Linked DNA regions of Homo sapiens. The protein of the gene in region 1 interacts with the protein of each later gene in a pairwise test. Each region holds a gene or a part of one and is shown on either strand. Other genes may lie near its edges.

Region 1 (7,360 bases):
AGGCGGGTGGATCACGAGGTCAGGAGATCGAGACCATCCTGGCTAACAAGGTGAAACCCCGTCTCTACTAAAAATACAAAAAATTAGCCGGGCGTGGTGGCAGGTGCCTGTAGTCCCAGTTACTCAGGAGGATGAGGCAGGAGAATGGCGTGAACCCAGGAGGCGGAGCTTGCAGTGAGCCAAGATTGCGCCACTGCACTCTAGCCTGGGTGACAGAGTGAGACTCCTTCTCAAAAAAAAAAAAAAGATTTCTCAAAAGAATAATCTACATTGCTGCCTCCAATTTCTCCTCCCAGTTTTCTCTTCTGCCTTCTCCAATCAGCCTTTCACCTGTATTCCTCTCAGCTGACATGCCCTTGTCAAGGTCACCCATGCACTCCACGGTGCTGGATCTAATGGTCAATTCTCACTCCTCCTCAGCCACATCTGACACAGCCCATCACTCCCTGTTCCCTGAAACATCGTCTTCATGACACCACACTTGCCTGGTTTTCTTTTTTTCTTTTCTTTTTTTTTTTTTTTGAGACAGGGGTCTCGCTCTGTCACCCAGGCTGGAGTACAGTGGCACCATCTCAGCTCACCGCAACCTCCGCCTCCTGGGTTCAAGCGATTCTCTCACTTCAGCCTCCCAAGTAGCTGGGATTACAGGCGTGAGCCACCACACCCGGCTAATTTTTTTTTTTTTTTCTTGAGATGGAGTGTCTCTCTGTCACCCAGGCTGGAGTGCAGTGGCACAATCTCGGCTCACTGCAACCTCCACCTCCCAGGTTCAAGCAGTTCTCCTGCCTCAGCCTCATGAGTAGCTGGGATTACAGGTGTGCGCCACCACAACCAGCTAATTTTTGTATTTCTAGTAGAGACGGGGTTTCACCATGTTGGTCAGGCTAGTCTCGAACTCCTGACCTCGTGATCAGCCCACCTCAGCTTCCCAAAGTGCTGGGATTACAGGTGTGAGCCACCGCGCCTAGCCATATTTTTGTATTTTTAGTAGAGACAGGGTTTTACCATGTTGGCCAGGCTGGTCTCAAACCCTCCCATGGGCCAGACACAGTGGCTCATGCCTGTAATCCCAGCACTTTGGGAGGCCAAGGCAGGAGAATTGCTTGAGACCAGGAGTTCAAGACCAGCCTGGGCAACATAGCAAGACCTTGTCTCTACAAAAAAATTTTAAAAGTAGCCGGGCATGGTGGCATGTGTCTGTAATCCCAGGTACCAGCTACTTGGGAGGCTGAGGTTGGGAGGATCACTTGAGCCCAGGAGTTTGAGGCTGCAGTGAGCTAGGATCACACCACTGCACTCCAGCCCAGGTGACAGAGTAAGATCCTATCTCTAAAAACCAAACAGCAGGCCAGGCGCAGTGGCTCACGCCTGTAATCCCAACACTTTGGGAGGCCGAGGCAGGCAGATCACTTGAGTCCAGGAGTTCAAGACCAGCCTGGGCAACATGGTGAAACCCCATCTCTACTAAAAATACAAAACTTAGCCAGGTTTGATGGCATACGGCTGTAGTTCCAGCTACTCCAGAGGCTGAGGCAGGAGAATCACTTGAACCCAGGAGGCAGGGGTTGCAGTGAGCCGAGGTTGCAGTGAGCCGCGATCGCACCACTACAATCCAGTCTGGGCAACAGAGTGAGACCCTGCCCCCCCCCCCCACACACACACACACACACACACACACACACACCAACAATGACTAAAATACTAAGTTATCTGTCACCACCCCTACCCCATTGCCTCTTGGACCTTGTCCTTCACTGCCCTCTTTTGCTCACTCCACTCCAGCAATGCTGGCCCCTTTGTGGTTCTGTGAATGATCCTACTACATGGCCTTTGCACTTGCTGTTTTCTCTTTCTGGAACCCACTTTCTCCTTCATTCCTTCAGATTTCTGTTTCAGTCTCACCTAATGAAAGAGGCCTTTCCCCATGTAAATTAATTCTGGCTGCATTACTCCATTCCCTTAGCTGCTTTCTTGTTATTTATTTGTTTATTTATTTAGAGACATAGTCTCGCTCTGTCACCTGGGCTAGAGTGCAATGGCAAATCTCGGCTTATTGCAACCTCCGACTCCTGGGTTCAAGTGATTCTCCTGCCTCACCCTCCTGAGTAGCTGGAACTACAGGCACGCATCACTATGCCCAGTTAATTTTTGGCATTTTTAGTAGAGACAGGGTTTTGCCACTTTGGCCAGGCTGGTCTCAAACTCCTGGCCTCAAGTGATCCACCAGCCTCAGCCTCCCAAAGTGCTGGGATTACAGGCATGAGTCACCATGCCCAGCCACTGCTTTCTTTTTCTCCTTGGTACTTATCACGAAGTTACACTGTATTTCCTTATTGTTTGTGTCCCCAAGAACTAGAATGTAAGTCTTTTTGTTTTTTTTTTGTTTTTTTTTTGAGACGGAGTTTCACTGTTGTTGCCCAGGCTGGAGTGCAATGGCACGATCTTGGCTCACTGCAACCTCCGCCACCCGGGTTCAAGCGATTCTCTTGCCTCAGCCTCCCAAGTAGCTGGGACTACAGGCATGTGCCACCACGCCCCGCTAATTTTGTATTTTTAGTAGAGATGGGATTTCACCATGTTGGTCAGGCTGGTCTCGAACACCTGCCTCGGCCTCCCAAAATGCTGGGATTACAGGTGTGAGCCACCGCGCTCATCCTATTGTTGTGTTTCTAGCACCTTAAGCAGAGCCTGGCACATATTAGATAGTCAAGAAATATTATTGAATGAATTAATGAACCAGCAGTTAATGAGCACAATAATTCTATGCAGTGTGAAGGCTGTTGCTTAAATGCAGGAGGTAGTGGATGGGGTTTGTGACATGGCCCCACCCTGGTGAAACAGCCTTTCCTCAAAGCGTCTATAATGCCACACTCTCCTGGTTTTCCTCTCTCTGGCTGCCTTTTGCAATATTCATCGACAGCGTCAATTCCTTTGCTCAAATCCTGCCTCTCTGTTTCAGGGTTCTGTTCAGTCCCTGTCTCCAGTGACCCTTCATACCCTCCCCGGGCTAGACCCCTAACTCCCACAGCCTCAATTACCATCTTTGACGATCCTTAAATCTTGGTCTCCAGCCTCAATTTCTCCCTTAAGCTCCAGACCCAGGGTTTGTGCACCTCCTGGACCTCGCTACTAGGCATCCACATTGGGCTTAGTATCTTCCCAACCTGCTTCTGGCGCCCAGTCTCCCGGCTAGAGGGGCCTGGTCCTAAACTTTTCTCCCCCTTCCACTCCATAGCCAGCCAGTGTCAGGGCCCGTTCGCTCTGCCTCCAGGGCGTCCCTCCCACCTGCACCTCCTTCCCTCCCCACAGTCCCTCCCTCGTGCAAACCCCCTCTTTCTTCCCCACCCCCTCCCCCAGCTGCCTCCCTGGACTCCCGATCCCGTTTCATTCCCTCCAATCCGCCCTCCATGTATAAGCCAGAGAGACATCTCTCCAAAACCCCAGACTCACCATGATCCTCCCCGGCTTGAAGCCCTTCACGGCTCCCTAGTGCCCTCGGGACAAGTCCAAACTCCCTCAAGTGGCCAAACAACTGGCCTCTGCTCGTTCCTCACCCCTCCCTGTCTTCAACTCGACCCTCCATCCCGACTGCCTCTCTAAGTGCCTGTAACAAGCCAGATCTCTGTCACCGAGAGCCTTCTGAACACAGGTCCCTCTGATTAGTTCACCCGGACCCAATACAGTTTGTGGAACGCACAGATCACAACCAAAGTCACAGCAACAACTCCCGTTTATTGACAGCCTCCTTGATCCTTAGCGCTTTCTGTGCATTCTCTTCCCACCCTAAAGGCTAGATCTCGCCTCGCCATTCCCATCGGAGAGAGCAAGCGGCAAGGCTGAGAACAGCGCGATGAGAAAGCCGAGCGCCCAGAAGCCCGAGTGCAGACGCCCACTGAGGACAGCCTTGGGTGAGGCGGGCCACCCAAGGGGCGGGGAAGAGGAGGCCTGGAACGCCTGAATCAGGAACTGTGACTTCGCTCGGGGCAGCTGGGGTGGACGCGCGCGAGCCTGCCCCCTGCGGGCCTGGAGGCCCAACCTCAGACTCCGCCGGGCCCGTTGCCCTGGGCAACGCCCCGCGCGCCCCGCCCCTTCCCCGCCCCCCAGCCCCAAACCCCAGGCCTGGCCGACTGCCCGTCACCCCCACGTCCGACCAATCCCGCCGAGGAGGGGGCGGGCCTCTTGGGCCCCGTTCCACCACCGTCGCTCCCCCCTCGCCGCGACCCCGCCTTACTCGGCTCACACCTCCCGCCCTTCGGGCTGCCCTCGCCGCCCGTTGGCTGGCGCGCCGTTCGTCACCCGGGCGTGAGCTAATGCCGGCGCGCGGCGGCCCCCGTCGGGGCGGGGCCAGGGGCGGTGACGCACGGCGCGGTGACGCAGCGCGACGGCGGCGGCGGCGGCGGCGGCGGTGGTCGGTGCGGGAGGAGGGAGGGGAGCTTGCGGGCCCGAGAGGGGGCGACGGCGGCGGCGGTGGCCTGAGGAGGCCCGAGCGGCGGCGGTGGCGGCGAAGGCCGAGGCGGTGAGTCTCGGGCCGGGCCGGCGCGGGGCGGCGGCGAGTCGGGGCGCGCGGGGCTCCCCTCAGGGCGACCCAGGCCGCGCGGGCGGCCCCGCCCCCTCAGGGACCCCGAACCGCGGGCGGCGGCGGCGGGCGGGTGCGGAACGCGGGCCTCGGGGGGCCGGGCCCCACGGGAGAAGCCCCGCGCCCGTCCCCAGTCTCCCTCCTGGGCCCTGGCCGAAGCTTCCCTCCGAAATCTTTCTCATGCCCTCGGGATTGCCGAGGGGCCGGGCCGGGGGCCTCTCCTCAGGACCCCCCGCACATCCCCCTCGGAGAGCCCCGGAAAGCCTGCCGATCCCCCGTGTGCGCCCTGAAAGGTCCCCGCAAAACCCACCCCTCCCGTGGAGTCGCCTCCTCGAGCCCTTCATGGGTCCCAGCAGCTTTCCTCGCAGACCCCCGCCCTTTGGCCCCGAAGCCCCCGTCCTCCTCCTGTCTCCAGAAATAGTCCTCGGAGGCCACTCCTCGTCCATTCCACAGCGTGGCTCTCATAGCTGCTCCAGGAGCCTCCCTCACGAGCCCTGCACACCTCCCCAAGGCTCCCTCCGGACCCCTGTCCATTCCAGAACTCTCCCCCGGAGCCCTGCCTCTCACAGCCCAACAGGCTCACCCGACTTCCCCCTCCCGGATCCTAAGAATTTTCCCTCCCACTTACCCCATTCCAGAAACCTCCTTGGAGATTTTCCGCTCATACCCCCTGCATTTCTGATTCCCCCTCCCAGAAGTCCTTCAGAATGCCCCCGACGGACCGTGATCATCTTCCCTGAAGATCTCCTTCCCATATCCCCAAAATAAATCTTCCTCACAGACTTTGTGAAATGCCCCCAGATCCCAAAAACTCACCTAGAAGACTCCATCCCCCTCCCCACCGTATTGCAACCATCTCTCATACACACTCCCCCTTCACGTATCCCTCTGGACCTTTCCACAGATCCCAAAAGTCTCCCCCAGAGGCCTCCTGTCTCCCCCTGGTCTCACCACCCTAAAATGCCCTAGAGATCACCCTCATGTAGCCCAGTGATCTTCACCGGGATCCCCTTCCCCACCCCCACTCATTCTAAAAATCTCCAGCAATTGCCTGAAATCTCCAGAGGACTCTCAGCATCATATTCCAAAAGCTTCTTCCAAAATCCCTTTTACATACTCCACATCTTTTCCAGTCCCCCACATCACACGCTCCAAAAATTGTTTAAGGATCCTGAAAACTTTCCTCATGGTTTTTCTCTCAGATCCCGTAGAACTCCCCTTCACTAACACCTCAGAATCCCCCCTTGCAGACCGGTTTTAGAGGAATTTTCTGAAGATCCTCCTCACAACCCCTGTAAGACCGTAAGATTCTCTTGGTGACCCCTCTGATATGCAGGTTTTCAGGACCCCCCCCCCCCACACACACACACAGCTTAGAGACCCCAGCGACCCCCTGGAGCCCTCCTGACGTATGTTCTTGAAATCCCTCCAAGACCTTCCTGACACCACCAGAACCCCTTGAATCAATACTTCTGCCTTACTAAGGGACTTTTCTAGAGATATCCCTCCCTGAACTTGCTCACACAGGTCCCCTAAATCCTCTAGAATCCCTTGAAGAAGACCCTCACACACACCTAATTTTCCCCCAAAATAACCCGAGCTCTTGCTCTGAGAAAGTCCTATAATTCTTTCTGAAAAACCCTCTCCTCTGACACTCTCTCAGAAGACCCCGCCTTCCCCATATACTCTTTTGGAGACTTTACTCAGCTTTCTCCTCAACTGAGATCTCTGAAGAGTTTTTCCTAAAAACATCCCTCTGTCATCCCACTCCAGGACCAGTCTCAGAAGACCACACCTTCCTCAGACACTTTTTAGAGAATTTTCTCCCAAATTGCCCTCCATCAGCCACCCACTCCCAGCGCTTCCTGAGACTTCCTCAGAACTTTCCCTCAGATTCCACTTCTGACATCCCCAAGAAACATTATTTAGGACCCTATCAGATTTACCCACTAACTTTAGAATTGCTATTTACACCCTCTCATTTCCCCATTCTCTTTCCTCTGAAGTCAACTCAGAGACCTTTCTCAGGGGGCCCCCTTTTCCCATTATCCCTTCAGAGGTCCCCAACATTCTCCAGACTCGTTGCCCAAGAGCCTCTATGTTTCCTTGTAAAGATTCTTGAGAGACACCTTTCCCCGCCCCCTTGAAATCCCAGTGCTCCGAGATCTTTCTTTCAGACCATTTTTCTTAGGTGCCATGCTCATAGACCCCTCTTCCCTTCAGAGATCAAGAGACCCTTAACACCCTCCTTAGAGACTTAGGATTCTCCCCATTTCCCTTTCAGAAGCCTTCTTCCTTCTCCCCTTTGAGGACCTCCTCACCAAATAATCCCTTCCCCTATAGCAGTGGTTCTCAGTGTGGTTCCTGGCCCAGCAGCAGCCACATTTGTTAGAAATACACATTCTTGAATCCCACTCAGATCTACTGAAACTGAAAACCTGGGAGCAGGGCCCAGCAATCAAGAGTTTTTAACAAACCCTCCTGGTCATTTTGATGCACACGCAAGTTTGAGAACCTGTGCCCTTTAGGAGGATTTCCTTTTCCTCACTAAAAGCCCCCTGAAAGATGCCTCAGGGTATGCCTCTGTGCCCTACTGCCCACTGCTGCTTTCCTGTTTCCTAGGAATCCCCTTTATGAAGTACCCATCCTCCAGAAAGATTTCTTACCTACCTTGAAAGGATCTTGGCTTCTCCACAAGGTTACTCCATCCTCTGAGCAGTTATTTCCGATTCTACTTTTGAATGGTTTCTTTTCAGATCTTCCTCAGTGCTTTCTCTTTCTGGC
Region 2 (7,181 bases), on another chromosome or scaffold:
CTCAAAAAAACAAAGAAAAAAAAAAAGAAAAACAAAGGTTTTTAAAGGAAAAAATGAGGAGGATTACATAATGGTTTTGAAATAATTATCCTTGGCTACAAATATCAATAACAAAGGTCACACCAGTCCGAGGTTGGACAGGCAGTTGCTAGGCAGATGTCTTTGCAGAAGTAATTTTTGTGTGAGGTTGCAGCAGCCTATGTGCAAGGTTGTAATTTTTGCAGAATCTTTTGTGATCATTTTTGGTATTAGGCATACAAGCATGAGAATCCCCTCTTCATGGCCTCCCCAGCTCTATTTGTCATGGTTTGTTTTTTTAAAACACTAGTGACTCTATTTGAATTCTAACAACTTTCACATTCCCAACACAAATGATAGACATTTAAGGGATTAATATGCTAATTACCCTGATCATTACACATTGTATACATGTATCAAAATAACACACTGTACCCCATAAATACATACAATTATGTGTCAATTAAAGATCATTATTTTTAAAAATAGGACCAGAAAAAAAGATGCAGACCCTCTAGTAAGGAGATGGGATCAGGAGTGATTCCATGGTTAATTTAACCCACATAAACAACTAATCGTAAGTATGGTATGAGCGTTTATGTAAAGACTGTGACAACAGGAAATGTCTGTCTTTGAACCCAAGGTTATCTAACCAGCACACCAATGGTGAAAGATTAACTTTGTCAGAAACCAGGAACCATGAAGCAGAGGTCACTGTTTCCAACCTGTGTGTTTTCCACGGTAATTGGCAGCCTCCCCAAGGGAAATTAAAACATATGTCCACACAGAAATTTGAATGCAAATGTTCATAGCAGCATTACTCATAATAGCCCAAAGCTGAAACAGCCCCAATGTTCCACAGTGGATGAATCGATGAACAAAATATGGCGCATCCACAGAATGGAATACAAAGAAAGAAAGCGTGGACACATGCTGCAACATGGATGAACCTTGAAAATATTGTGCCAGGGGAAAGAAACCAGAGACAAAGAGCCACATGTTGTAGGATTCCATGTATATGAAAGGTCCTAATAAGCAAACTCATAAAGACAAAAAGCAGATTGGTGGTCACTTAGGGCTAGGGTGAGGAGTGACGGTTAGTGGGCACTGAGTTTCTCCGGGGGGAACTGAATTAGATGGTGGTGATTGCACAATTCTGTGAATAGACTAAAAACCACTGGACTGTAAGAGGGTGAATTTTTTGGTATATGAATTACATCTCAATAAAGCTGTTACTTAAAACGTGGAAAAAATAATAAGCAGTCACTAGCTATTCTCAATAAAACAGAAACCACATAGGTAAGACCAATATTGTCACATTTTGGTTTTGGCTGATAATGGGGCAAGTGAGCATAGTCACCGTTGCCAGAGGATTTACCATTTACAAATAAAAGTTTCTGTGGAGTGACAACCTTTTACTGTGTGCCAGGTACTGTGCTAAGCACTTTGTATATACCGATTCATGTAATCCTTGTGACAGCCCCGTGATGCCCCATTTTTAGATGGGGAGATTGAGGTTAGGAGAGTTGAATAACTTGCCCATAGCTGCACAGCTTCCAAGTTGCAGAGACAGGATTTTCACCGAGTCTTATTACAAACTGCCTCATATTGTGTGGACTGGAAATTCTATGTTGAGGTTAATTTATTCATTTGTTGTTTAGTTCTTTTCATCATTGTTGAGTTACCAATGGCAGTTCCAGAGGATTTATCATTTACCCCAAAGCTACTGCAAATCTAAGAGAAAACAATGTTCTTGCTGCTAAAGTTTAATGTACAAAAAGGTAAAATCATGACTGTCTTGCAAATAAAACATGAACATGTATCCAAGCTTTTAACTCACTGATTAATAAGGAAACCAGTAAGACGTCAAAACCAGTTCAAATGGGAATTTGATGTACAGAAATTTATATTCTAACAACACTTATTTAGTTCACTGTAAGAAATCATTTGCTTTGGCAGATTAGGCACTCAGCAGAAGCACCAGCCAGCTCAGCCTTTGGAGGGAGAATTCCATGTTGTTGGACCCATACATATCCTCTGTCCCTGCTGCCAAGAGCTCTTTGTTCATCGGCCCGTTGAGCAGACACCACAGCAGCTGCATAGAGAGGCTGGCTGACAGCCACAGAGCATGTAATTCTGTCCATCTGATTCAGGGTCTTCTCTGCAGTGGATGCCCTTTGGTGGGCATTCAGGTGAGATGCAGATATCTTCAGTCTGCCCATTCGGAGGGATTCAGCCACATATCTCTTTCCAAGATTTTCTTGTCACCAATCTTCCAGTCCTGTTCTTTTTAAGGCCCTGACCATCCAGCTAAACCATCAGCGACTGTCCATGAATCAATTTAGGTCTGTATTCTGGCCATCTCTCACTCCAGACATAGTGGACAGCCTTGAGTTTCTGCTCACTGGAAGGATTCTCCTTCACCACTGCCCTTCACAGTCACCCCTGAGTGAGTGTGAGTGAATACTGCAGCTGTTCTCTTTCATGTGGTACCAGCACATCATACAGACCCATCTATAATCCAGGCTGGAGGTTTTTCTCCCTCAGTCAACTGGACATAGGCAGCATCCCAAGAAGCCATAGTTGTAGAATGAGGGAGAGGAGGCAAAGCAACAGGAGTTGATGTTGGAAGAGTCTGAGCCGCCTGCTCATACAATTTACTTATACCTTCTGAACCTGCCTGGGCTGTTTCTAATACACCATTTCCATTTGATGATAGGTGGCTGCTGTATACATCCAATTTTATGGCTACGTAGGTCAGATGACATCCAGTTCATGATGGGAGCTCAAGCTTCATGGTCAGGCATTCTGCCTCTATCAAGGCCTAGTAGCAAGGCAGAACCTGCTTCTCAGAAGGAGAGTAGTTATCTTCAGAAGAGGTTCTAGATTTACTTTAGAATTCTAGAGGTCTGTACTCTCTCCTGTCAGTGCTTGCCAGAGGCTCCATACAGCATCCCTGTTGGACAAAGTCCCACTGGATCTGTTGGATCACAAGACCCAAGTGGTAGGGCAGCTTTACTGCAGCCTGAACCTTCTGCAGAGTCTTCTCTTATTCTGCTCCTCAATCCACCAGCCTGTCAATTGGGTTGAAATAGCACAAACACAGTATATGTTGCCTTCAAAGTCCAAAATGGCTTACTGTTCCAGGCTGTGTCCCCCAAAATTCATATGTTGAAATCCTAACCCCCAGTGTGATGGTATTCAGAGATGGGGCCTTTGGGAGGTATTAGATCACAAAGGTGGAGCCCTCACGAATGAGATTATTGTCCTTATAAAAGAGACCCCGGAAAGCTACTCCACACCTACTGCAATGTGAGGACACAGCAAGAAGCCTGTTGTCTATGAACCAGGAAGCAGGTCCTTACAAGACACAGAACCTGCCAGGGCCTCAACCTTGGACTTTTTAGCCAACAAAACTGTGAGAAATAAATGCCTTTATTTATAAGTCACCCAGTCTATGGCATTCTGCTATAGCCGCCTGGACAGACTAAGACAGCTGCCAAGTGCCGTGCCTCTTTTGTAGTGATGCAAGATGCAGCAACTCATCTTTCACCCTGGGAGGGCTATTTCAACATGCTCCAGACCCCTGAACCCCCAGAAATACCACTGCTAGTATCCATTCTGCATCAGTCTGGATCCAATCAGGAGAAAGAAGCCACGGAGTAATATGAACTGAGAAAGTTTAATATAAATATTAGATGGCCGGGCGCGGTGGCTCACGCCTATAATCCCAGCACTTTGGGAGGCAGAGGCGGGCGGATCACGAGGTCAGGAGATCGAGACCATCCCGGCTAACACGGTGAAACCCCGTTTCCACTAAACAATCCAAAAAAATTAGCCAGGTATGGTGGCGGGCGCCTGTAGTCCCAGCTACTCGGGAGGCTGAGGCAGGAGAACGGTGTGAACCTGGGAGGCGGAGCTTGCAGTGAACCAAGATCGCGCCACTGGAGCTAAATAACCCGAGTCTCACAGTGCATCTGATTGCTACGCGAACACGTGCGCACCACCAGGCCTTGCCTTGGGGACTGGAACAGGTGCAGGTGGGATTCCCATCAAAGGCTCTTCTCTCAGTCCTGAAAAACAATATACCGGGGGCCGGGGGCCGGGGGCCGGGGCGGGGCACGGCAGCCCTACCCTGGGGGAGGCGCGGCCGGGCCAAGAAAACCAGCGAAGGCCCGGCCCCCCAGCAGAGGCCGGACCATGGTTGACCAGTTGCGGGAGCGCACCACCATGGCCGACCCGCTGCGGGAGCGCACCGAGCTGTTGCTGGCCGACTACCTGGGGTACTGCGCCCGGGAACCCGGCACCCCCGAGCCGGCGCCATCCACGCCCGAGGCCGCCGTGCTGCGCTCCGCGGCCGCCAGGTTACGGCAGATTCACCGGTCCTTTTTCTCCGCCTACCTCGGCTACCCCGGGAACCGCTTCGAGCTGGTGGCGCTGATGGCGGATTCCGTGCTCTCCGACAGCCCCGGCCCCACCTGGGGCAGAGTGGTGACGCTCGTGACCTTCGCAGGGACGCTGCTGGAGAGAGGGCCGCTGGTGACCGCCCGGTGGAAGAAGTGGGGCTTCCAGCCGCGGCTAAAGGAGCAGGAGGGCGACGTCGCCCGGGACTGCCAGCGCCTGGTGGCCTTGCTGAGCTCGCGGCTCATGGGGCAGCACCGCGCCTGGCTGCAGGCTCAGGGCGGCTGGGTGAGCACGCGGCGGACACCGGGACACGGGGCGGGACGGGCAGCCGGGAAGCGCCCACGAGGCTGGCACGGTGAGGAACCCACCGCGCCAGGCCCCTGGAACGAGGTTTCGTGAAAGCAGAAAGGCTCGTTTCAGCGGGCCTGGAACGTTCGCTGTGAAGTCTGGGGTTTCTCCTCCCCTGGCAGAAAGGCCGGCAGAAATCGGCCTTCTTAGACGGCCGTGAACCGTTCCGAAGCAGCTGCGCAGGCTTAGGTCTGCTCACTTGGACCTTGCCCTGGCCTTAGCCGTCGGGGACTTTTAGGGGGGCACCCACGTTAGGTCTGAACGTTTTGCTCCTATAGAAATCCCCAACCAATGAAGTCAGCAATGGCGGGGCCCCAGCCAGGTGGGGTGTTTTTCTCCTTCGCCTATTAAATGCGCCTTTGGAGAGACTCAGACCCATTGATCACAACCCCCTACGCCTCTCAGCCTGGCCAGAGAGGTTGTGGAGTGTGGTGGTCGCCCAGTGGTGGCGCTGACCCAAGGTTCCTTAATTTCTAGTCCTCTGCACCCAGTCCTCGGTGAGAACGTTCTAGGCCCCTGGCTTTCAGCTGCAAGCCTTCATCTCTGTGGTCAAGGTTAGAGGGACAGGCCCTTGCCCTGCAGCTGATGATCAAGGAAAGCCACCTGGTGATGAGCCCACTGCATGCCTCTGGGGGCTCTGAGCTAGACCCCATTTCTTTCCCCACCACCTTATTGGCGTTGATTCAATGACTGAAGTGGCCCATGTTATCGGATACCTATAGCCAAACTATTAAAACCAGCAAGTTTTTTGATCCGAAATGTAGCCTCCTGGGGGCAGTTTCCATTTAGACCTTTTTCTTTTTTTCTTTGAGGCGGAGTCTCGCTCTGTGGCCAGGCTGGAGTGCGGTGGTGGATCCCAGCTCACTGCAACCTCTGCCTCCCGGGTTCAAGGATTCTCCTGTCTCAGCCTCCGGAGTAGCTGGGACTACAGGCGCGCCCCACCAAGCCTGGCTAACTGTGTGTGTGTGTGTGTGTGTGTGTGTGTGTGTGTGTGTGTGTGTTTTCAGTAGAGATGGGCTTTCACCATGTTGGCCAAGATCTCGATCTCTTGATCTCGTGATCTGTCTACCTCAGCCTCCCAAAGTTCTGGGATTACAGACGTGAGCCACCTCACCTGGCCCCCATTTAGACTTTCTATAGTGACAAGTTGGGTTCTATCTGAGAAGGGAAAGGGAGTGGGAGGTGTGTTAGCAGGAACTCCTGCCTTGTTCATAATGTTAGTGTTGGTCTTCAACCCTCTGGGCCGGTGAACTCCCTTCAGCTGCGTGCCTAAGAGCCTCACCTGAGCCCTGTCTCAATACGGCATCTGGCCCCTCCGGGCTCTCTGTACCTGAAGAAGAGATTAGAATTGGAAAGGGGCCGTTGAAGCCTTTTTTTGTTGTTTTTGGCTAATCACTGTTGATGAAAGAATAATCTCTTAACACCAAGGAGCTGAAATTCTTGGCTGGGTGCAGTGGCTCGCACCTGTAATCCCAGCACTTTGGGAGGCCAAGGCAGGTGGATCACCTGAGGCCAGGAGTTCAAGACTAGCCTGACCAACATGGTGAAACCCCCTCTCTACTAAAAATACAAAATTAGCCAAGCACGGTGGCAGGTGCATGTAATCCCAGCTACTAGGGAGGCTGAGCCAGGAGAATCGCTTGAACCCAGGAGGTGGAGATTGCAGTGAGTTGAGATCTTGCCATTGCACTCCAGCCTGGGCACCAAGAGCGAAACTCTGTCTCAAAAAAAAAAGCTGAAATTCTCAAATTGGGTAAACATAGTTCACCCTTGTCTCTGCCCATTGCAGTTAAAATGCCACAGCCTGGAGTTCAATTCCCTTCCTAAATGGGGTTGGTGCTTGCTGTAGTGTCAGGTGATAACTTTTCAATCTAGTGACTTGACAGTTTCCCAAAAGGCATCTCTTCTTTGCTCAGAAAAGAGCATAATAAGCTACCTTCCTCTTGGTTTTGAGTCAAGATATGAGTGTTCCTGCACCAAGTGACAAAGTTAAATGCTTGCTTCTGTTCACTCTGTTAGACTTACCAATCCTCACTCCTCAGGGGCTCCTCATTACTGGATGTGTATTGGTCAGAATTTCCTTTCCTTTTACTTTTTAAATCCAAACTTTACTTTGCTGTTTAATCTGGAAGTTCCTGCGTGTTTTGAGTGAGGTTCTCAGCATCATGAGGCAATCTAACTTTTCTCTCTCCCCCCTGTAGGATGGCTTTTGTCACTTCTTCAGGACCCCCTTTCCACTGGCTTTTTGGAGAAAACAGCTGGTCCAGGCTTTTCTGTCATGCTTGTTAACAACAGCCTTCATTTATCTCTGGACACGATTATTATGAGTTTTAAAACTTTTAACCCGCTTCTACCTGCCCAACTGTGACCAACTAAATGACAGATGTGTGAGAACAAGAACTGAGGGAAAG
Region 3 (7,023 bases), on another chromosome or scaffold:
GCTCGCCTCGTTGTGATTACAGGTGTAAACCACGACACCTAGCCAACAACTGCATTTTAATAGGCCTATTCATACCTGCACTTCGCAAGAGATTTATCAATCACGAGAATACCTGTGAATGCTATTCAAGTGGTTAGGTGTGTTCTTCATACGTTAGGTAATGACTAAAATAATTTTACCATAATCTATAAATAGAATTGTGACTCACAATTTTAATACTCTCTTACTGAGGAAGATAAACAGACTCTCTGAGGGTCCTATTAAATTTTATTCAGGATGATGGTCACCTACCGACTCCTACTCCTTGTCCTACTCCTGCTTCTAGTCCTATGCCTGTGTCTTGATCTTGAGCGGGAACGAGACCTGATCCGCCGTTTTCTTTCCCTGCTTCTGGATCTCGATTTCTTCCTCTCTCTGCTTCTGGATCTCGATTTCTTCCGCTCCCTACTCCTGGATCGAGACTTCTTCCGCTCCCTGCTTCTACTACGATGGCGTCTGAAATTAAAGTGCACAAATTTGTAATTACTTAAAAGTTGTGTTGTTTCATTTATACACATCATGAATTAGTTACTTGTAGTAACGCAATAAAGACAAGCAAGTAACTGCACTATATTATTTACAGAAATAAGCGAGATTTTCAAAGGAAATACTAACTGAAAACGAACCCTTCATTTTGTTTGATAATTTGTCCTAGAACATAGTAAACCTATTAACATGTCAAAAGCGTTCAATGCATCCTACCCAAATTTAAGCTTCCGTTTAATACTCTTCCCACAGTAGTTACAAATCTTAATACTTTAGTTTATCTACTAAAAATTTTTGAGTCTGATACCACACACAACCCACAGAATTCTCCAAAAAAAACCCCACCAAAAACCATTCACAAATTTGAGCTGTGATCCAGTTTCTCAAAAATCTTTTTATCTATACTCCAACATTAAAAAAAATCTAGATTGCAGTTTAGCAGCAAACACCAACATCACCATCGATGATGCAAAAGGACTGTTTATCAGCTTAAACCACACAGTTTAACAATATGATTTTTTCAGTGCCAGACAGATTAAGTGGTTAAAAATCTCAGCTGGGCAGAGTGACTCACTCCTGAAATCCCAGCACTTCAGGAGGCCAAGGCCGTCACACTGCTTGAGCCCAGGGATTCGTGAATAGCCTGCACAACATGGCCAAAACCCGTCTCTACAAAAAAATACTAAGAGATTAGCTGGGTGTGGTGGCGCATGTCTGTGGTCTCAGCTGCTTGGGAGGCTTGAGGTCAGATCACTTGAGCCCTGGAGGACAAGAGGCTGCAGTGTGCTGAGAGCACACCACTGCACTCTAGTTAGGGCAACAGAGAGACCATCTCAAAAAAGAAAATCTAGGCTGGGCACGGTGGCTCACACCTGTAATCCCAGCACTTTGGGAGGCCGAGGTAGGTGGATCACCTGAGGTCAGGAGTTCGAGACCAGCCTGGCCAACATGGCGAAACCTCATCTCTACTAAAAATACAAAAACTAGCCAGGCATGGTAGCACATGCCTGTAATCCCAGCTACTTGGGAGGCTGAGAAAGGAGAATCACTTGAACCCAGGAGGCAGAGGTTGCAGTGAGCCGAGATCATGCCACTGCACTCCAGCCTGGGCAACACAGCAAGACTCCGTGTCAAAAAAAAAAAAGGGAAAAGAAATCTAGGCACTTGAGATTTAGTCATCCCTTACACCCCATTCTTGGAAACCATTTTTGCATGATGAGAAAGCAAAGCCCAAAGGCAAAAAACAAACAAAACCACAAACCCAAACAAACGAACAAGAAAAACTCCCTAATTATGATTTTTTTGGGTGTTGCTGGGTCAATGAGAAACTTTATGTAACTTGTTAGAAGGTACTACATTATAATACAACATGACTTACCTTTCACGAGACCTAGATCTTGAGTGACTTCTGCCTCTTGATGACTTTCTTTCTTTGCGTTTGTGCCTGTCCTCACCATTTTCAGATGAATTTAGTCGCTCTCTTCCTTTATCAGAAGAATGTTCTTTGTCATTATGTTCCTCAGACTTATGTTTCTTAGAGGATTTATCTTTGGATTCATGTCTTCTTCCCTGTTTTAAGAAGAAGTTGGTTCTTTCAGGAAAATAGTGCAACAAAGAGAGTTAGTATGGGTATCAGTAGACAAAAATGTTGTGATGCAACATTAGTAACCTTAGGAGTGTGTGGCAAATAAAAAAAAGATCTAGTTTCACATCACCCAAATGTTGCAGATGTAATTACTATTTTTTTTACTATAAACACCCAAAATGTAGTTCCTCCCCAAAATATTTTCAATACAACAGAAACAATGATTTTTAAAGTTGAAATATTGAAAAGCCATTATGCCAGACAAAAGAGGAATCCCTTATGTTTATCTAAAAGAATACAGACCATGTATATACATCAACTTCTAAATCCAGATTACATAATGTTAAGTTTAAGTAAGTAATGGAGATAATGACACAAAAAGTGCACCAGAAACGCATTTCAATTAGGTAGCTAAATATAATTATTACTAAGTACTAATATTTTCTATAATTTCAAATTATTTTACACAGAGATGCAGTGTCCCTTTTACAGTTATACTGCCTGCTACATCCTCTAAAAGACAGCTCTTGATTTTCCTCCCAATGTCTAAACTGTGAAGCAATCACTTTTCATCTTGCAGTATCCCAATAGGCTTAGAGGAGTATTACACTTCATGTACCTAGGGTAGAAATGGCAACTGTATGTTTCAATTTTAAAGAAACCAAACTAGGTATAACAATCCACATGCCATCACACAATACATACTGCCCCCACACTTTAAAAAGACCAAGGCCTTCACATGTGCATTCAGAGACTCAGCTCAAATTAACTGCATGATCAAGTCTCATCCTACCAAATACCAAAGTAGAAGTGCTACATACTACAGTTCCCTACAGGAAGATCTGTCAAATTCATCTTGTAGTGAAAGTTTAAAATCCTAGACATCTCTGAATCACTAAATTTTAATTCTGGAAGGAAACTAAGATCCTCTAACTTAATCCCCTTATTTTATGTATAACTAAGATCTAAAGTTACAAAGCTACATGGGTGAGCTGAACCTTCCCCATGTTTTTCTGATGCCCACGCTACCACTTTTCCACTGTAATAAGACACTACTGTCTCCCAAAAGGCCATAGCATGTTTCTTTCCACTCACGATTAATGTTTCTTAAAAATAAAACTTGGCCAATCATTTTGGAACATGCATGATGATTTATCTGAAAATGATCATAGTACATAATTTATTATTTGCAGAAAAATAAGAGACCTGGAGACACAATTAAATTTTAGTTTCATTGCCAGTTCTCTATAGGAGCTTAGAAAAGAAATTTTCCTTGGTTTTGCTATAACGAGGCAGACTGGAAAAGTCTTAAGTGGTTAAACTTCTAAAGGTTTTAAAGTTTATTTCAAACCAGTTTTTCAAACATAACATTACTATTAATTTAAAAAAAACATTAAAACCCTTAACTGATTTAAGATATATTTAAGGGAAATAGGAGTTTGAATGACTAATAGTTACCTTATCATGAAGTAGGCTTATTATTTTGCTATCTGAGTCTGCAGCGTCTTCAGTTCAGTCTCTTCGCGCATAAGCACGCTGAGTATGATTTATTATAGAAATGTTATCATGTGAGCTAAACAAAATAGTCATTTTCACAAAAACTCTCCTAAATTAAAAATTTAACAGAGCTTCCATTACGGGAAGAGGTGAAGTCCCTGCCCACTCTTGTTTTAGGAGTCCCTTACCCAGCCCCCACAAGACTCTTCTCCCTTTCTGGCTACTACTTCTACACTTCCTTATTGGCTCATTCTTTGTCTTCTCAGGTGGGTGAACAAGTAACTCCTTTGCAATACAGCTGCTGCCTTTCTTTTTCCTCAAGTTTTGGTGTCACCGCCACCTTTTCAGCTGTCCCTCACTCAAACCTTTATTTCAAAATTCAATACTACTATTAGGGAAACTGAACTAGTTTGCAAAAGAAAAGAGAACTCCTGTTATCGTTCATAAGGAAAAAGCAGCGCACAGATATCTAGGGTATTGCTATGTAAAGATGATTGCTGTTTAAAAATCCTGAGCAACTGTCAGGCACCAGGAGACTCGGGACCTCAGATTAATGGAAGCTCTGTGTGACAGGCCTAAAAAAACCAATCATATTCTTCATATGAAATTTTTATTGTGAATATTTTCACAATATAATAAAATTAAAGTTTTGAAGGTACTTTTCACATAAACATCTTCTTCAAAAATGATGAATCAAAATCATGCTTATTTTATAACCCAATAAACCTTTTAAATTTCAAGTTTTGTACTTACCTTGACAACGTCTTATATTCATACAAATCTTTCTACCAGACACTTTATAAGTATTTTAAAGTACCTATTCACTACAAAGTGTTAATTACCTCTTTGCTTCTGCTCCGGCTCCTGTGTTTTCTTCCTTCATTATCTGTGAATACACAAAAAAAATAATCACCATAAACAAAGTTGGAGAAACATTTCATCTTAAAAAACTCTTAATGCTGGAGAAAAATGACTCCCATTAGTCTTCTTCCAATGACTAATTTTTTCATGGCACGGGTGGGATTATTCTACATTAATACAACACACATGTGAAACAAATCAAGCAATCTGAGCAAACCAGGACATAAAGCAGCCTAGATACATCTTTTAAACGGTCATAGACTTTCAGTATTTTACATATATTCTGACCAGCCCATCTAGTTTCCTAGTCTACAGCAAATTCATAAGGGGGTTTAATAGAGAGAGGTAAGCCATTAAGAAAAATAAAAACTAAAGAAAATAAACAGGTTGAATTATATTTGATATGTTCCAACATGGTGAAACCCAGTCTCTACTAAAAATACAAAAATAAGCTAGGCGTGGTGGCGCACGCCTATAATCCCAGCTACTCAGGAGGCTGAGGCAGAAGAACTGCCTGAACCCAGCAGATGGAGGTTGCATTGGGCTGAGAGTGTGTCAATTTTTGTATTTTTGGTCCTGGCTCAGGTGATCTGCCTGCCTTGGCCTCCCAAAGTGCTGGCATTACAGGCTTGAGCCACCATGCCCAGCCAACAAACTAAATGTATGTGTCTTCTTATACAACAGGTCTACATATCTTATACAAATGCTGAGAGTTGTAACCACCTTTAAGAATTCATACCTGACTTTCGTTTTCTTTCTCTTGACCTTGATCGTGATCTTGAATAATGATGTTTTGAAGCTCTAGGAGAAACAGATACTTCTGACTGCTCTTTTTTCTTATCTCTATCTGGTGATGTCTTTTCTGGGGCTAGTCCATCTCGCTCTGTATCACTAGCCTAAAAGTTTAAAAACAAATGATTAAAGTTCTTAATTACATTTTAAATGTTTTCAATTTCTTAAAAGAGGGACAAAGGGAGGGAAGATAGCCCCCCACAATCAATAAATCAGAATGCCTGCTTTCCAAGTAACTAAATGTGCTTTGTACACTAATAAGGCTGAATGGCTTGAAATGACGAACCTGATACTAAAGCAAGACCTACATATTTAGACTGATGTATCTTTAATTTTCTAACGATGATTTGTATAACTTTTAAAACATGGGGTGGGGTGGGGGAGGAATAAGGGCTCCAAGTAGTTCTAATAAGCATTCAAGCAGAGAAAATAGTCCTTTTTAGATGTGTGAATGCATTTAGCTGACTTTACCAATACTTTTAAATTAGCATACATGTCAAACATCAAAAATGAGTTGTTAAAGCTTAAAGATACTCAAGACGATAAAATCTTAAAACAATGCCCTAAGAATATTATAAAATAATAAACAGAAAATTAACTTACCTAAGTGAGAACCTCATCTTAATGTCATTAACCCTCTTTAATGAAAACAGCCCCTTGGCACAGTGCTGCTGCAAAATATGGTCTGCCTCTCCTCACATGTGCTCTGGGCTATGAAAACATTAAGTTGTTTCTGCTTTAAAGCATTTTATAAGTAATTATTACAATATAAATTTTACAAGTTTCAACTAATGCAGAAGGTAGACAATGCTCGGCTATCTGACCAGAGAAGATAACATGAAAATAAAATAATTGATACACCTGGGGAATTGATTACTTAGGAAGGGTTGGCAAGCTATGGTCCTCATTCTGTTTCTGTATGGCCTTGAGCTAGGAATGGTTTTTTACGTTTTTTAAAACTATTTTAGGCATATTTAATAAATAACTTCAGTAAATAGCACTGTAAAGACTGAACTGTTAAAACTAAAGGCACTTAAAACGCCAGTGTTGTGGCTCATGCCTGTAATCCTAGCACTTTGGGAGGTTGAGGCAGGCGGATAACCTGAGGTCAGGAGTTTGAGACCAGCCTAGCCAACATGGTAAAACCCTGCTTCTACTAAAAACACAAAAATTAGCCAAGAGTGGTGGGGCGTGCCTGTAATCCCAGCAACTCAGGAGGTTGAGACAGGAGAATGGCTTGAACCCATGAGGCAGACGTTGAAGTGAGCTAAGATTGCGCCACTGCCCCTCCAGCCTGGGAAAGAATGTGACAGAGACTGCACATGGCCCACAAAGCCAAAAATATTTACCGTCTGGCCCTTTACAGAAACAGTTTATGGACTTTTCACGTATAACATCAAACGGAATCTGGATTGAATAAATAGGGAATCGATAGTCTTCAGCAGGAGGAATCACATTAGAGAACTTCCTCCTTTAGGAAAGTTAGTCCAGAAAATGAATACCAAATATCAAGTACAATAAATGGGGGTATTGTATTTTAACAAATTTTAAACAAGTATCAAGTACAATAAATGGGTGTATTGTACTTTAATAAATGAAGTTGTGAGAGGTCGAGTTACTTCAACAAGTATTTACTAAGGGTCAAAAATGTGCCAAAACCAATGCTAGACTTAGGGAATAAAATGATAAATTAAAAACAGAAAGGTTTTGCAGTTCAATTATGAGATGAAAGACATAAATTACGTGTTATTCCTCTAACAATG
Region 4 (7,931 bases), on another chromosome or scaffold:
ACATGAAAATGATAATGATAATAATCTGGACACTGACACCTTTCAGTAACATTAACTCGCTATGGATCATAAACCTAAATGTAACATACACAACTGCAAAACTTCTAGGAGATAATACATAAGAGAACTAATGTGACCTTAAATTTGGCAATAAATTTTCAGATATATAGCCAAAAGATTTAAGTGATTAACCTTATGTAGTCATCTAACATATGGCAAAACAAGAAGTGGAGTCCAGAACAACCTGGTTTCAAAGATAATCCTCTTTTCATTAAACCATATCACCTCCAGGAGATGACAGCAGAGGATATTTAAATAATAGATGAGATAAGACTTTTAAGACTGAAATTAGAAATTTCTCAAAGAGAAAGGGAAAAAGAAAATTTATAGTGAATATTACATGAATTAAAATGATGATATCAGTTGCATTTAATGATCTGTTAATTTCAGTGAAACCTCTATACTTACTAGGAGTCCTGGTTCTGGAATAGGAGAAGGCCTTGAAAACCTTTTATTCAGTCTCCTCTTCTCTTTCTTTAGGTGTTGCATATTCTGAATACGTTTATTTGCAAGCTTTAGAAAAATTAAAATGAAAGAAAAATCATACTTTTTTGTAACATATAAAGGTAACATTCTGATTACATTTTTGGTTTGTGTCAATAAAAAAGGTAAACACCACCACTGCAAACGGTTCACATAACTACATAGAAATAGGGCGAAAAATCTCTTTCATTCAAATGTATGGTTCATAGGTGAAGAAAACCACATTGGAGCATCAGTAGGGTTTTCAAATAAGACTATTCTTGATTCTCATCTTACCACTGCATACACTTAAGTAGATCCAGACTCATGGATTAGTGTGCTTACTTTTGCTTTAAAAATAATGTTCATTAAGGACACCTAGGGAATTTTCTCTATAGAAATATGAAAACAATTATTCACTCCTTTGAAATGTTGCATGACACACATAGCTTTTTATGCCACCATTGTGTGGCGTCTACAAGTAGCAGATACCTAGGAGATCAAACTAGAATGCTTTTAAGATAATGAAATACAGTAATAGAATAGAAAGGATATGAATAACAATAACTTTTTTATCCACTTCCAGTGAAGTATCAATTGGTACAATTGCTTTGAAAACCAACTTTTTAAAAAATCCACTGATAACAGAATATAAACTTGAACAATTGCTTTGAAAACAGTGTGGCACTACTTTCTAACAATAAAAAATTTGCTTTTCCTATGATTCAACCATTACACTCCTGCCTAAATAATCAAATGGCATTCTTGTGCATGGGGCAAGAAGATGTGTACTAGAATGTTTGCAATAGTACTATTCATTTTAGGAAAATGTAAAAATAACACAATGTCCATAAACAAGAGAAAGGATTAATGAACTGTGATATGTTCCATGACAAAATATTGAACAGCAGTGAAAATAAAGAAACTATATACAGCAATGTAGATAAATCTTAGGAAATAATATTGAGAAAAAAGAGTAAATCATACACTAAATTTTGTGTGATCCTATGTTTATAAAGTTCAAAACCAAGCAAAAGCAAATAGTGCACTTATAGAGACACCTATGTAACAAACTATTAAAGAAGAGGAAGAGATTGATGTAGCTAAAATTCAAGATGGAGGTCACCTCTGGGAGAGACCTTAGGAGGTAGAATAGAAAAGCATTCCCTAGCTGGATTCAGAAATACCTAATATTTTAATCCTTAAATGGGAGGCATATTGTAATTTATAAATTATATCTGCCACATCTATTTTTGTATATGTGTCAAATGTTACATTAAAAAATAACATAAGCCATTTAGTTTACCCTAGTTAAGACCCATTCCAATAGTAGTCATTAGATCCCAGAGTCCCAAGAAATATACTGAAGTGTCTACTTAATACAAGTTCTATTATGTTAGGGACCACTACATAAAGGAACAAGTTACAAGCACAATGTTTAAACAACCAGAACCTAGTTCTTTATTTAAACATTACCTGCCGCTCAGTGACCTCTGAAGGATGATGTTGTCTTGGTCCTTCCTATATAATAAACAAAATTAAAACACATTCACACAAAAAAGTCATTAAAAACAGTAAATTAATTATTATAATAGGAAGCCTATGCTACTTTTAAATTTATGTATTATATGAATCATTTCAACTATAAGAAGCAGGTTAAAAAAACAAAAAGAAAAAAGTCAAGTTCAGAATAAAAACATCTAAGATAAAAATTGTGGTGGAAGATGGAGACGATATTATGATAAAAAAGAACCAGCTGTGAACCACCTTACAGATAAAAGGCAGAGTATAGAGATATATTCGGGAGGGAAAGAATGTACGAGAAATCGAAAAATGCATGTTTCTGCTTCTACAGGACTTCAGTGGTGCTATTGAGCAATCTAGTCTTCAATCTGGTTTCAAAGCCTAGGAGTAATTGGTGATGTGATTGAGATCGTATGGTTTTCTGAAGCACAGGGAGCTTGGCTGTTAGTTTTCGAGATTCTCACCACTTCCTCTATTTCTTGATTGTACCTTAAATAACTCCTCCTTCACTCGTTTTGATCCAATCTTTTAACCAGAAGACCCAAGAGCAATCTGTTCCACATCTGGCAATTGAGAACTTTATCCTGCTCCCTACTTCTGTAATTTCCACTCCACCTCCTAGGGCAGGCCAATGGGGCAGTCAACATACAGGTGATGTACCTGACCCCTAAGCACACAGTGGGTGGAGCTTTTTCTTGTTTCAGAGGGGTCCAGCAGTCAGGATGTAGTCTGTCTACATCACCTGGAATTTCCCAACCCCCAGCACCAAACCACATTTACAAGAGTTAGAAGCACCATGGCCAAGGCCACAGTGGCCTGGAGCTCAAGGCACAGGACAGAGTGGCAGAGTTGAGGTTGTAGGCCCCAGCAGACTCACAGGGTTGACTTGGGAAGGCTCGATGTCCCAGCAATACAGGCACATGCCGTGGAGCCTTAGGGCGCCCCCTGACGCCTACTGCCTGTCCTGGACCAAATGATTATGGGGCCCCACACCCACAGCCTTCAAGCCCTGCCCCACCCAGTTCCATCACTATTCTCTTTATTCTTCTCCCTGCTATGGGCCCCACCCTTTCCCCAGTTGTATTCCAGTCCAGTGCAGGGAAGGCAAGGCCTCAAGTTGTCTGCAGTGTCTTTGAGTTATGGAAGTCAGTTTACCATAATTCCTTATATCCTATCCTTCTTCCTCAGAAAATTGCAGAATACCAATTTCCCACCTTTTCTACCCTTCATCTCTCTAGTCTCTCTCTTTATAAAGCCCCTTTCATTTGTTAACATATCTAGCTTAGTCTCCATGTTCTCTTACTTCAGACTGTCTATCTATTGTTAGGGTTCTCAATTCCACCACCTCATTGTTGTTCCTTCACAGCTTCTAGTTGGGCTGACCCAACTGTCTGCCTTCTTCCCATCTATCTATACCAGATGAAGTGAGGAGAAGCTTGAAGATGGCTGGAATACATATTTGTGACCCCAGATCTATTTATTTATTTATTTTCTTTTTTCTTTTTTTTTTTGGCCAAGTCTCTCTGTCGCCCAGGCTGGAGTGCAGTGCTACAATCTTAGCTCACTGCTACCTCCACCTCACTGCTACCTACACCTCGAGGGTTCAAGCAATTCTCCCATCTCAGCCTCCCGAGTAGCTGGGACTGCAGGCGCATGCCACAATGCCTGGCTAATGATTTTGTAGTTTTAGTAGAGACAGGGTTTTACCATATTGGAGGCTGTTCTCAAACTCCTGACCTCAGGTGATCCACCCGTCTTGCCCTCCCAAAGTGCTGAAATTACAGGCGTGAGCCACCAGGCCCGGCCGTGACCCCCAATTTAAACTGGGTCCTCAAAGCTGCTTAAGACTTTTATGTTGCACCAGCTTTTTTTGTGCTCTGCAGTATTCCCTTCAAATTGTCTTCTATTAAAATCTCTGAATCCACCAACACTCAGGCACTTCCAGTAGAAGTGGGACAATCCGTGCTTCACACTCTGATGCTGGTGAACATGTATAGAGCTTACTATGCTCAGCACTGTTACATGAATTTATATGTGTTAACTGATCAAGTCTTTAGACCACTCAAGGTGGGTAAGGGCATGATTATAATCACTGGGAAACAAGGCGCTAGCATGTTAAATTGCTTTCTTGAAGTTACGCTATTAGTAAGAGGGTGAGCTGGAATTTAAATCCAGGGTTGGCCCTTAGATCATGTGCTCCTAATTATGTGCTATGCTACCATTGCTTTTGAAGCCCTCACTGGGGCTACCTCAATACCACCTAAAATCCTATAACCTTGTCAATATCCACATTATCCTTTTCCCTGTAACCCTGTCGAAATGGAAAAAAAAATTGGTATCCCTTCTGTTGCCTCAAATAAATCTATCCATTTGCATTTGCATGCCATTTCCCTCCTAGGAGCCTCCTCAGATCTAGCTCTACAGATTGTTCCTCTCCTTGTTAACTTCTCTATATTGCCTCTTTCCTTTAAACATTTCATTACTGTAAGTTCAAATCTCCCCCTCTCCAAACTAATAAAGGAAACTCCTTAGAACAACAACCAATTGTATCTATTGCCCATCCCCTCTATATAAAGTAAATATTCATGAGAGTGGTCTGTACCTCTGCCTCTTCTTTATGTTCAGTGTAAGATTTGGCTTACTGAAACCTGTTTCAACTCCCACTGTTCCACTGGTGCTTTTCTCAAAATGGTTAATCAAATGATCTTTCTCCTGAATTCAATGGACAGTTTCTATCATATGATTTTTGTATCACGTTAGAAACTGCTGAAAAGTCTTTCTGATGAGTTAGGCTTAGAAAAAGTAAACAGTTTTGCCCAACTGTAATGTTCAAAATCATTATCCATGCTCTTCTTGAAACTCCCCTCTGGGAGCAATAAGTTGTAGAAAAATCATATAAACTTCCCCATTATCACAAACCAGGAATTGACTTGACACACTATAGAAAATGTTTTGAATGCTACTGTCACATATCATGCCAAGTCCTATGCATACAAAATGAATAAATTATTGCCCTCAAAGGCAGTCAGATAGATTAGCAAAAACAAAAAGGTAGAAAATGTATAGTGAGCTTCAATAATAATACATGTTGTGTTGTACAGACATTTGGGAGCCCCTAATGCTCTCTGAAGACAGGCCCAAATAGCCTTCTCAGTGGAGTGGAGTAGCCAGAGTTTACCAGGTAGCTAAAGAGAGTGCATTTATGACAGAGGTGCAGCATGTCCAAATGGCAGTGTGTACAGATAAGTAACATGGGTTTGATGAATGTGTAACTGTTGTCATCACGTTTTACTCATCACATCTCTTTGCTTTTCCTCCTACCATATTTTGTATGGAAAAAAGTCAAAAGGGTTAGCAGGAATCAGGCACCATAAGGCTGCATAAAAGAATATTCCAGAGTCACATGTCTGAGACTTATTAGGAAGTTGGTAGTGCAACCCATAAGAGCCCAAATCCTATTGTAACTACTTGAAAACTCTTGTGACCCTGGCCAATTAATTATCATGCGTGATCCTCAATTACTTTCTCTGTATCTATAAAATGAGAATGATAATATCCAACAATATAGGGTTGTTATAATCATTATAAATAATATAAATAAGGAATTGGATCCAGTATCTGTTAGGTAGTGGTCATCGATCATGGTAGTTATGATTATATTTTACTATGGATTACATTGTAAGATTCTCCAAATGAAAAGAACCTTAGATATCATTCAGCCCAGTCTCCCACTGAATTGCCACTAAATGATGATATTGCCAAGGGGGTTACCGCTAAATGAAGACACTGCCTTCCCTTGGCAATATCTTCATTTAATGGCAATTCAGCTTGTTTTGATTAAATCAATGATGGAAAATTCAATCCAACCCATTCAATTTTTTGACACCTCTAATTATTGAAACTTTCTCACCTACATTGATTTGAAATATGTTACTCTATTATCCTAGTTATATTCTCAAAGTCCTCACTCAATAAATTCATTCTTTTCTACCTGATGACAGGGCTGGGGAAGAGGCTGGGATAGTCAGAGTTTGAAAGTTTGGAGGAGCAGCCCCATAAACTAGGAACCAGACCTCTGAGGAGGGGAACACTGCCAATCTGAGCTAGTGGATGGAGGGTAGTGGCGGAGGGAGGTGGCGGAGGGTAGTGGCGGAGGGAGGTGGGGGGTGGTCCTTCAGAGCTGGGGAATAGAGATTTCTTAGAAGCAGGCAGTATCTGGCAGGTGTTGGTATGATAAGGAAGAATGATAAAACCAATTCTGGGAATGTGGAAAGATCTTGGAAACTGGGAAGAACTGCTGCTAGAAACATTTGCTACTGCAAAGTCAAGTTTTATTGCTAGGATGGCAACATAATAAACAAACAAACAAATAAACAAACAAACAAGATCCTAACCCCTCCACTTGCCTTCCAGTCTCCTTCCAGTGCCACTTATTGGATACACCTTCCAGGACTCCAGTTGGCTAAATTTTCAGCTCTTTATCTCTAAAGAGAAATAAAATATGAACAGTTCCAACCCTGCCTTCACAAAGTAGAATATGAAAGAATGGATTTACATTTGAAAGACAACAGCTTAGTAAGTGGCACCAACCATCAGGTCCTAAACCACAAGCATTCCTTCAATGATACCTGTGTGATATAGTTTGAATATTTGTCTTCTCCAAATCTAGTGTTGAAATGTGACCCTCAGTGTTGGAGGTGGGGCCTAGTGAGGTGTTTTTGAGCCATGGGAGTGAATTCCTCAGGAATGGTTTGGTGCCCTCCTTGTGGTAATGAGTGAATTCTCATTCTATTAGTTACGGCAAGATCTGATGGTTAAAAAGAGCCCGGCACATCCTCCTCCTCTTGCTTCCTCTTCCATGTGACACAGCTGCTCCTCTGTCCCCCCCCCTTTTTTTTTTTTTTTTTTTTTGAGACGGAGTCTCACTCTGTTGCCAAGGCTGGAGTGCAGTGGTGCAATCTTGGCTCACTGCAAACTCCATCTCCTGGGTTCAAGTGATTCTCCTGCCTCAGCCTCCCGAGTAGCTGGGACACAGGTGCCCACCACCACACCAGGCTAATTCTTTGTATTTTTAGTAGAGACAGGGTTTCACCATGTTGGCCGGGATGTTCTCGGTCTCTTGACCTCGTGATCCGCCTGCCTTGGCCTCCCAAAATGCTGGGATTACAGGCGTGAACCACTACGCCTGGCCCCCCTTTTGTTTTATGCCATGATTTTAAGCTGAGGCCCTTGCCAGAAGCTGGCACATTGCTTCTTGAATATCCTGTAGAACTGTAACCTAAATAAACCTTTTTTCTTTATATATTACTCAGCCTCAGGTATTCCTCTATAGTATTGCAAAATGGATTAAAACATTCTTAGAATGGTTTCTATTCTCCCCACCTTCCATTGATAACCTTTATTATACTATAGTCAGCCAGTGTCCCACACAGGACAGAAATCTCAAAATTTTGATCAGGCCAAGTGTGATAGTTAACTTTATGAGTCAACTTGCCTGGGCCACAGAGTGCCCAGATAGTTGGTCAAACATTATTTGGAGTGTGGCTGTGAGGATGCTTTAAAATGTGATTGATATTTGAATCTGTAGGTTAAAGCAGAATGTCCTCCATATTATGGGGGAGTTTTATCCAATCAGCTGAAGTCCTGAATAGAAAGAAAGGGTGGCCCTCTTCCAATTAAGAGATAATTCTCCTGCTTGATGACTTTTGAACTGGAACACAAGCTCTTTCTGATTGTAAAGCAGCCTGCCTGCTTTCAGATTCAAACTGGAGCATAGGCTCTTTTGGACTTACCTCTGTCTCTGATTAGAGACATAAACAAATCCCTTAGGTAATAAATCCCTTTATATATAAAACAGGATACATATATATCTTTTAGTAGAATAT

What was found.
Region 2: the proteins of SAMD4B (region 1) and BCL2L10 interact in binary tests that used the Homo sapiens proteins (3 or more experiments, as listed by UniProt).
Region 3: the proteins of SAMD4B (region 1) and RSRC2 interact in binary tests that used the Homo sapiens proteins (3 or more experiments, as listed by UniProt).
Region 4: the proteins of SAMD4B (region 1) and CCDC179 interact in binary tests that used the Homo sapiens proteins (3 or more experiments, as listed by UniProt).

The regions. Positions count from the first base shown.
Region 1 is NC_000019.10:39,338,061-39,345,420, forward strand, and holds the start of SAMD4B (protein Smaug homolog 2), read left to right. Parts: upstream 1-4,360; 5' UTR 4,361-4,516; intron 4,517-6,064; exon of another isoform or gene 6,065-7,360.
Region 2 is NC_000015.10:52,109,764-52,116,944, reverse strand, and holds the start of BCL2L10 (bcl-2-like protein 10), read left to right. Parts: upstream 1-4,169; 5' UTR 4,170-4,218; coding exon 4,219-4,707; coding exon of another isoform or gene 4,708-4,777; intron 4,778-6,971; coding exon 6,972-7,097; coding exon of another isoform or gene 7,098-7,138; 3' UTR 7,139-7,181. UniProt on the Homo sapiens protein: Promotes cell survival by suppressing apoptosis induced by BAX but not BAK. Increases binding of AHCYL1/IRBIT to ITPR1. Reduces ITPR1-mediated calcium release from the endoplasmic reticulum cooperatively with AHCYL1/IRBIT under normal cellular conditions.
Region 3 is NC_000012.12:122,516,936-122,523,958, forward strand, and holds part of RSRC2 (arginine/serine-rich coiled-coil protein 2), read right to left. Parts: intron 5,365-7,023; coding exon 5,208-5,364; intron 4,498-5,207; exon of another isoform or gene 4,494-4,497; coding exon 4,450-4,493; intron 3,647-4,449; exon of another isoform or gene 3,577-3,646; coding exon of another isoform or gene 3,569-3,576; intron 2,117-3,568; coding exon of another isoform or gene 2,095-2,116; coding exon 1,904-2,094; intron 496-1,903; coding exon 292-495; intron 1-291.
Region 4 is NC_000011.10:22,857,454-22,865,384, forward strand, and holds the start of CCDC179 (coiled-coil domain-containing protein 179), read right to left. Parts: upstream 3,022-7,931; 5' UTR 2,969-3,021; coding exon 2,924-2,968; intron 2,044-2,923; coding exon 1,999-2,043; intron 574-1,998; coding exon 469-573; intron 1-468.